Homo sapiens: one gene and its partner. The protein of the gene in region 2 purifies or fractionates together with the protein of the main gene of each other region. This does not show direct contact. Each region holds a gene or a part of one and is shown on either strand. Other genes may lie near its edges.

What was found.
Region 1: the proteins of SYT12 (region 2) and MADD purify together in Homo sapiens (co-immunoprecipitation; 3 studies listed by BioGRID and IntAct, with this or other methods). This does not show direct contact.

Annotation. Positions count from the first base shown.
Region 1 is NC_000011.10:47,276,633-47,280,132, forward strand, and holds part of MADD (MAP kinase-activating death domain protein), read left to right. Parts: intron 1-99; coding exon 100-231; intron 232-1,532; coding exon 1,533-1,646; intron 1,647-2,366; coding exon 2,367-2,447; intron 2,448-3,500. UniProt on the Homo sapiens protein: Guanyl-nucleotide exchange factor that regulates small GTPases of the Rab family. Converts GDP-bound inactive form of RAB27A and RAB27B to the GTP-bound active forms.
Region 2 is NC_000011.10:67,021,740-67,025,933, forward strand, and holds the start of SYT12 (synaptotagmin-12), read left to right. Parts: upstream 1-1,394; 5' UTR 1,395-1,721; intron 1,722-4,194. UniProt on the Homo sapiens protein: Synaptic vesicle phosphoprotein that enhances spontaneous neurotransmitter release but does not effect induced neurotransmitter release. Unlike other synaptotagmins, it does not bind Ca(2+) or phospholipids.

The DNA.
Region 1 (3,500 bases), about 20 Mb from region 2:
GCTCGATGAAGTGGAAACCAAGTTGTAATGTTGGAAGCTGTTTTCTTGTAAACCATATTTTATGTTTTGGAGTGATTCTTACTGGATGGCTCATGACAGGTGGTGCTACAGTCCCGAGACTACAATGCACTCTCCATGTCTGTGATGGCATTCGTGGCAATGATCTACCCACTGGAGTATATGTTTCCTGTCATCCCGCTGCTACCCACCTGCATGGCATCAGCAGAGCAGGTGAGTCTCAAGGCGACTTCCGGCTTTCTCACCTCTGTCTTCCTGAGGGAGGAGGCTTAATGCTCAAAGAAGTTGTAAGTGAGTGCTGGTCCTCAATCCTTTGTCATAACTTATTTGTCTACAAAATCTGACTGATTTGAACTGATCTGGTGGCAAGGCTTATGCTATTTTAGTTTTCATTTATCACAACAAATGTTAATGACTGTAGGCCACTGGCTACACTGCAGCAGGTGTTACGTGTGTTACGTAATACAGTAGTTCCTCCTTATCTGTGGAGGACACATTCCAAGACCCACCAGTGGATGCCTCAAACCACAGATAGTTCCAAACTCTATAGATACTTTGTTTTTTTCTATACATATATACCGGTGATACCGTTTAATTTATGAATTAGACACAGTAAGAGAGTAACAGTTTTCTCTTTGGGCATATATTTGGTGTTTTTTGGAGACAGAGTCTCCCTCTATCCCCCAGGCTGGAGTACAGTGGCACAATCTCGGCCCACTGGAGCCTCTGCCTTCCAGGTTCAAGTGATTCTCCTGCTTCAGCCTCCCTAGTAGCTGGGATTACAGGCACTGCCACCACCACACACCAAATAATTTTTTGTATTTTTAGTAGAGGCGGGGTTTCACCATGTTGGCTGGGCTGGTCTTGAACTCTTGACCTTAGGTGATCCGCCTGCCTCAGCCTCCCAAAGTGCTGGGATTACAGGCATGAGCCACCGTGCCCAGCCTCTTTCTACATATATTTGGCTTCTCTTTGGCATATCCCAATTGCCAGCATCAGTACCCTTGTGCTTTGGGGCCATTATTAAGTAAAATAAGGGTTACTTGAACACAAACGCTGAGATTGTGTGACAGTTGATCTGATAACCGAGATGGCTACAGGCTGGACACAGGGGTGATTCATGTCTGGGTGGGACAGAGCGGGACAGCATGAGATTTCATCATGCTTCTCAGAACTATTGTCCTGCACTTCAGATATGATCAAGCTGCAGTTTAAAATTTATGAATTGTTTATTTCTGGAATTTTCCTTTTAATATTTTCAGACTACAGTTTGCCTCAGTTAACTGGAATCACAGAAAGTGAAACTGTGGATAAGAAAGACTACTGTATACAAAAAAATGTACCATGTTACCTTTCAAAAAATCTGAAAAATTCTGAATTTTCAAATACATCTGGCCTCAAGAGTTTTGGAAGAGGGATTGTATCTGCATTTCCTTATCTAGAAGAATCCAGACTTGATAAGTGCTCATGATAGGTTTTGTCTTTGTTTCTCACCTTCTTTATCATTTCCACAGCTGCTGTTGGCTCCAACCCCGTACATCATTGGGGTTCCTGCCAGCTTCTTCCTCTACAAACTGGACTTCAAAATGCCTGATGATGTATGGCTAGTGGATCTGGACAGCAATAGGGTGAGGTTCTTGGCTGAGGCATTGTAGAGTCTAGAGGAGGATTGCATTCTAGACCCAGTCCTGAGATATCTGTTTCTAGATTCCTTTCAGGAACGTCCTAAGTTGTTGGATAATTTCTATTGCGAGACTTACTGAAACAAGTTTTTTTAAATGCTCCTTTTACCTTATTAGCCAAATAAACCCTTGGTTAGGTCTCAGAGAATTACAGGATTTATTTTTGCCAGAATTAAGTGACCCCCCACCATATCCTCCAAGAGCAGTCAGACAGTTGTGATCTGAGGGCCATTACATGTGGTATAGATCATCTCTTAATGGTTTCCCTGGGGTATAGTTTCCAGTAAGAAACTGTCTTTCAGTGCAGGCTTAATTAATTATATGACCATTCTGCAATGTGAATACATTCAGACTTTGGTGGGAAGCCCTTATGTGTGCTCATTGTAAAACTTAAAAAAAATAAAAATAAGCGTAAATAAAATAAGTGAAAAGAAAAACCATAATCCTTTTATCTAGAGATAATAACCAATAACATTAAGTTATATTTCATTTCAGATGCATATGTATGTCATATATGTGTGTACATATATCTTACTGTGCAGTTATATAATGTATATTCGTTTATATAATAATAATGTATATACGTCCTCTTATTTTTATTTATGTAAGTGAAATTCCTGAGCAATAAACTCTAAGGTCACGTCTTTTATCATTTCTCTGGTGCAGGTGATTGCCCCCACCAATGCAGAAGTGCTGCCTATCCTGCCAGAACCAGAATCACTAGAGCTGAAAAAGCATTTAAAGCAGGTAGGTGAAGAACGAAGGAAAGAAAGGGGAGTATTAGATGCTGTGGGATTCCTATAAGAAGACAGCTATTCTCAGAGCCAATTTCCTATCAAACTTCAAGTGGAGTAGTTTTCTTCACCCTGGATGGGCTTAAGAAAACGCGTATCCCATTTCTGGGTGGCAGAGTGAATTTCTGTTTTTGATTCCAATTCATTGTATGCTTTACCATCTTCTAATGCTTATGATGCTGTATAAAATAGCCCTTCACTCTCTGTTTCTTGTATGTGTGCCACTCTCTATGGCTTCAGAACATTTTCTCAGTCTTTTTTTTTTTTTTTTTTTGAGATGTGGAGTCTTGCTCTGTCCCCTAGGCTGGAGTGCAGTGGCGCGATCTCGGCTCACTGCAAGCTCTGCCTTCTGAGTTCACGCCATTCTTCTGCCTCTCCAGGAGCTGGGACTATAGGCGCACGCCGCCACACCCGGCTAATTTTTTTGTATTTTTGGTAGAGACGGGGTTTTGCCATGTTAGCCAGGATGGCCTCTATCTCCTGACCTCATGATCCGCCTGCCTCAGCCTCCCGAAGTGCTGGGATTACAGGCGTGAGCCACTGCGCCCGGCCGATTTTCTCAGTCTTGTTAGGTGGAAGTTAGTAGTGTGGACCGTCTGGCTGCTTTTATATTATCTTCTAGAGTTGATCCTGAGGGTTCCTTTCTTCAAAAATTCCTTTATTTGGCTGGGCACGGTGCCTCATGCCTGTAATCCCAGCACTTTGGGAGGCCGAGGCAGGTGAATCACGAGGTCAGGAGTTGAAGACCAGCCTGGCCATTATGTTGAAACCCTGTCTCTACTAAAAATACAAAAATTAGCCGGGCATGGTGGTGGACGCCCGTAGTCCAGCTACTCAGGAGGCTGAGGTAGAAGAATCACTTGAACCCAGGAGGCAGAGGTTGCAGTGAGCCAAGATTGCGCCATTGCACTCCTGCCTGGGCCACAGAGTGAGACTCAGTCTCAAACAAACAAAAAAATTCCTTTCTTTGAGTAATTCCTCACATCCATTTTTTATTGATTGATTT
Region 2 (4,194 bases):
ACTCAATCGTACCAAAGCTGCAGCTGGCTGTGAAGGTTGAGTTAAATGGGAAATGGCAGTGAAAGCTCAGGGCCCATTACCCAGGCCCCCCGCCCCATGATAATGCCCTTTCTCTTTGTTCTGTTCCAGGTCCAGGAAATGAAATGAAGACAAAAGCGCCCCCTGTGGGTGAAGGTAAGATGCAGCTCTCTTTCTTTTTTTCTTTTTCTTTTCTTTTTTTTTTTTTGAGACGGAGTCGCCGCGATCTCACTGCAAGCTCCGCCTCCTGGGTTCACGCCATTCTCTTGCCTCAGCCTCCCGAGTAGCTGGGACTACAGGCGCCCGCCACCACACCTGGCTAATTTTTTTGTATTTTTAGTAGAGACGGGGTTTCACCGTGTTAGCCAGATGCAACTCTCTTTCTAGGGCTCCCCAGCATCCTGTCTTCTAGACCAAGGATGCCCACACTGCACCAAGCCAGCACAGACCCAGCCTCCACTGAGAGGTCAGTGCCCACAGGCTGCCCTCAGCTCTAAAGGCCCAGAGTGTAGATGAGCCAGGAAGCACTGCCACCCTTGCACACTTGCTCCCCATCTGGGATCCTCGCCCCTCTTCCTCCCCCACCCCAGACCGTTGGAGAGGTCTCCCCAGGTGTCCACCCAGCCTGCTCCCCTGGTTACTGTGCCCACAACATGTGGCACCTTCCCCCGCACCCAGCCCCTCCCAGTGCAAGCCGTGCCTCACTGCCAGACTGCGCGGGCAGGGAGGGACCTGTCCCCTGTTCCCGGAAGATGGAAGATCGCCCACACCTGGCACTGTGCCCAGCCCCTGCGGGGGCGTCATAAATATCTCCTGAATGATTCATTCATTCCTTTGGGAGAGAAAGCACGACCCCTTAGTGGTTAAAGGTATGGAGTTTGAAGTCACACAGACCTGGGTTCAATTCTGGCTCTGACCTTTGGCTCTGTGACCTTGGTCACCTCTCTGAGCCTGTTTCTTCATGTAAAAAATGGAGTCACCACGACCAGATTAGGCCACGGTGAGGACTGAGATGATGTTGTAAGGCACCAGCACAGAGCTGACCTACAGCTCAATCGTGGTGGGAGGGAGTAATTATCCATTCAGAAAAGGGGAAACTTTCCGCTGCGCCTCCTGTCGCTGTTTTCCTTGGCTCCCGGAGGTGCGCAGTATCGGGTCCGTTTTTAAGGTAAAGAAACTGAGGCCTAGAAAGAGAACAGGATAACCCAGGGCGCGGAGGCTGGGGCTAGAACCCAGGCCGGCTGGCTCTGAGTCCAGTGCTTGGCCTGCCTCTCAGAGGCCTGTGGGCACGTCCCCACCCACCCCTGTCCCCAGGCGTGGGAGCGAGGGGTTGGGCTTGGCCTCAGGGCGTCCCTGGATCCCGGACGCGCTTGGGGATCTCCGGCTCGGACCCCAGGAGCAGAGACAGCGCTCGAGCTTGTCACTTTAAATTCAAGAGGGAGCGGGCGGGCAAGCGGGCGAGCGCGAGGGAGCGCGCGGCGGGCTCCTGGGAGCGTGCCCGGACTGCGGCGCAGCTCCGGTCCGCCGCCCCGGCCCGGCCGAGCCCCCGGCCCGCGCCGCGCTCCTCGGAGGCGGGAGCCCGGCGACACTGCAGGGGTGGCGTTGCCGCCGGCGGCCGGGCTAGGCGCAGGTGCGTGCGCGCTGCGGGAGGCGGGCCGGCAGCTGGAGCCCAGCCGGAGCGGCGGCCCCTCCGCGGAGCCCGGGTGAGTACGCACCCCGCCGACCCCCGTGCGCGGCCGGGATCGCACCCTGATCGCGGACGCACGCAGCCCCCTCCTCGGGCCCTGGGCCCGGGACCCCAGAGCCCCGCGCACTCCGCGCTCCTGCACCTCCGCGCCGCGCTTGCACACGAACGAATGCCGGGCACCGCGCACGCTGGGCGCCCTTACCCGGCCCGGCCACTCCGCGCAGTGCGCATCGCATCGCACGCCCCGCATGTGCACACACGCGGCTCACCCGGCCATTTACACGCCTCCCCGCGCCCACGCTGCACACACGCCCCTCACTTTCGCATTCAGCGCCCTGACTGTCCTCACTGTCCCTGCTCTGGCTTCGCACCCCCTCCCGACACTCCGGTCCCCATACACCCTGGAGGTTCCCGAGGCAGGAGCGCTGGGTCTGCAGGAACCGTCCCAATCTGGAGGGGAACGTTGCACCCCAGCCCGAGGAGGCCCTGGCCGTGTGAAGAGCCAGATATGACCCTCAGCCGCCGGTGGCACCAGCCTGAGTGGGGGGCTTTCCAGAGCTTAGGAGAGGGGTATGGCGGGGCAGGGGAGGAAGCTTGCCCAGACTCAGGGCCTCAAGGCTGTAGATTTGGGCTGAAGTTGGGGGAGGGAGGTGGGGGGCCGGGAGCCTGGCCTGTGGGTGGAAGGCCCTGAGCTGGCCATCCTGGGAGCTCTCTTCCAGGGGCTGCAGAGAGACTGTGTGCACCCTCCTCCATTCCCAAAAGCCTGGGAAAGCTGCACCATGGAATGTCAGCTCCTTCTCCCCGTCAGGGGATGACAGTTTTAGAGAGCAGCAGCAATAGTGCTTCCTATTAGAAATGGGGAAATTGAGGCTCAGAGAGGGCAGGAGACCCACCGAAGTTACCACAGCCAGTGTGAAGAAGGGTTAGGACAAGTCCCCAAGCCCCCAGCCTCCCTACTCTGAAGTCTGAAAGCTTTCCTAAGCAGCTCTGCAGAGTGGGGGCTCCCAGCCTGGGTTTCAAACCCGGACTCTGCCACTTGTCAGCTCTGGTGACTGACTGACAAATAAAACACATCTGTAGGCTGGCAGCGCTGCCCACACTGCACCTCAGTTTCCTCTCCAGTACAAGGAGCAGGGTAGCAGCCCCCTCAGAGGGCTGCGGTGCTGAGATAACACAGGGCAAGTCACACAGTAGGTGCCCAATAAATGCCAGCCAGCACCTCCCAGCCAGTCTGTCCTGCGGTTTCTGTGGGCTGTTTGGGGGATGGCAGCAGGATGTGGTTATCTCAGAAAGCGGAGGAGGGGTACTTGAAAAGGTTTCAACCTAAAGATCCTGAAGAGGCTCACAGGTTGAAGGATGAGGCTCTCCTGGGCCCAACTCCCGACCCTTCCCATTGCCTTGCTAGCCAGAGAATGATGTGAGGACACTGGGCAAGGAGGTGGGGTGGAGCAGAAGGCAGGGACAGAGGGCCCCTCTCCCCCGCCGAGGCACAACATTCATGGAAAGCCAATTCTCTGACAAGCCCAGGAGGGGCCTCTGCCATGGTCTGATTCCAGCAAAGCTGGGGGAAGTGGGGGGCTCTTCCAACTCCCCACCCCAAAAGGCCTGCCTGTTCAGGAGTCAGCATGGTGACCAAGAGCCCAGGCCCAGATCCATTGCACCCTGGCACCAATCCCAGTGTTGCTACTTGTATGCTAGGTGACCTGGGGCCCCAGCTTCCTCATCTATAAAAGGGGGATCCATTAATCCACTGAATCATCATGTCCACATTGTGTACCTACTACAACCAGGCACAGTGCTAAGCACTTAGCACATGTTATGTCCACATGCATGTAGCAGTAAGGAGATATTGCTAGGTAGGTATGATCGAGCTGGAATTTGAACCTAGAGCTGTTTTCAATGAGTAAGCTCTGTGCAGTTTAGGGTCTGGGGATTTGGGACTGAACGAATTGGTCAGATGGGGAGGGGTGCTGCAGAGGTAGGGATGTGCAGTCTGGGAGCTCAGTGAGGGTCTGGAGCCACTCTGGTCCCCCATGTTATGCTCTTTGCTGTGTGTCTGGACACCGGGGATGCTCTGGTCACAGGCTGCCCTGGTCCCACTGTACCTCATTGCTATCCTCTTCTAGCCAAAGACACAGTCCTTCTGCCTGGCAGACCTCCAGGCTGCCAGCGGGAGCCCACTGAGGTGGTCCCAGGTGAGACAGAGTCAAGGGGTCTCGGGGATAGTGAGCAAAGCCCTTGAGAAGGGCACTGGCTGCACAGCAGCACTTGCGGCTTGGTCTGAGCTTCCTCCTCACTGGTTGGGTGACCTCGGGCCAATTCACTGCCCTTCTCTGAGCCTCCCTCTCCTCCTCCGTGGAGGAGGGGGTAGTAACAGGATTTGCCCCATGGGTCTTACGGGTGATGGGGAAGACGGCATGAGGGTTGTCACTGCTAATGGAAGAGGGGCTGGACTGGGCTACAGGAATGACTGCCAGGCCCAGCTCTAC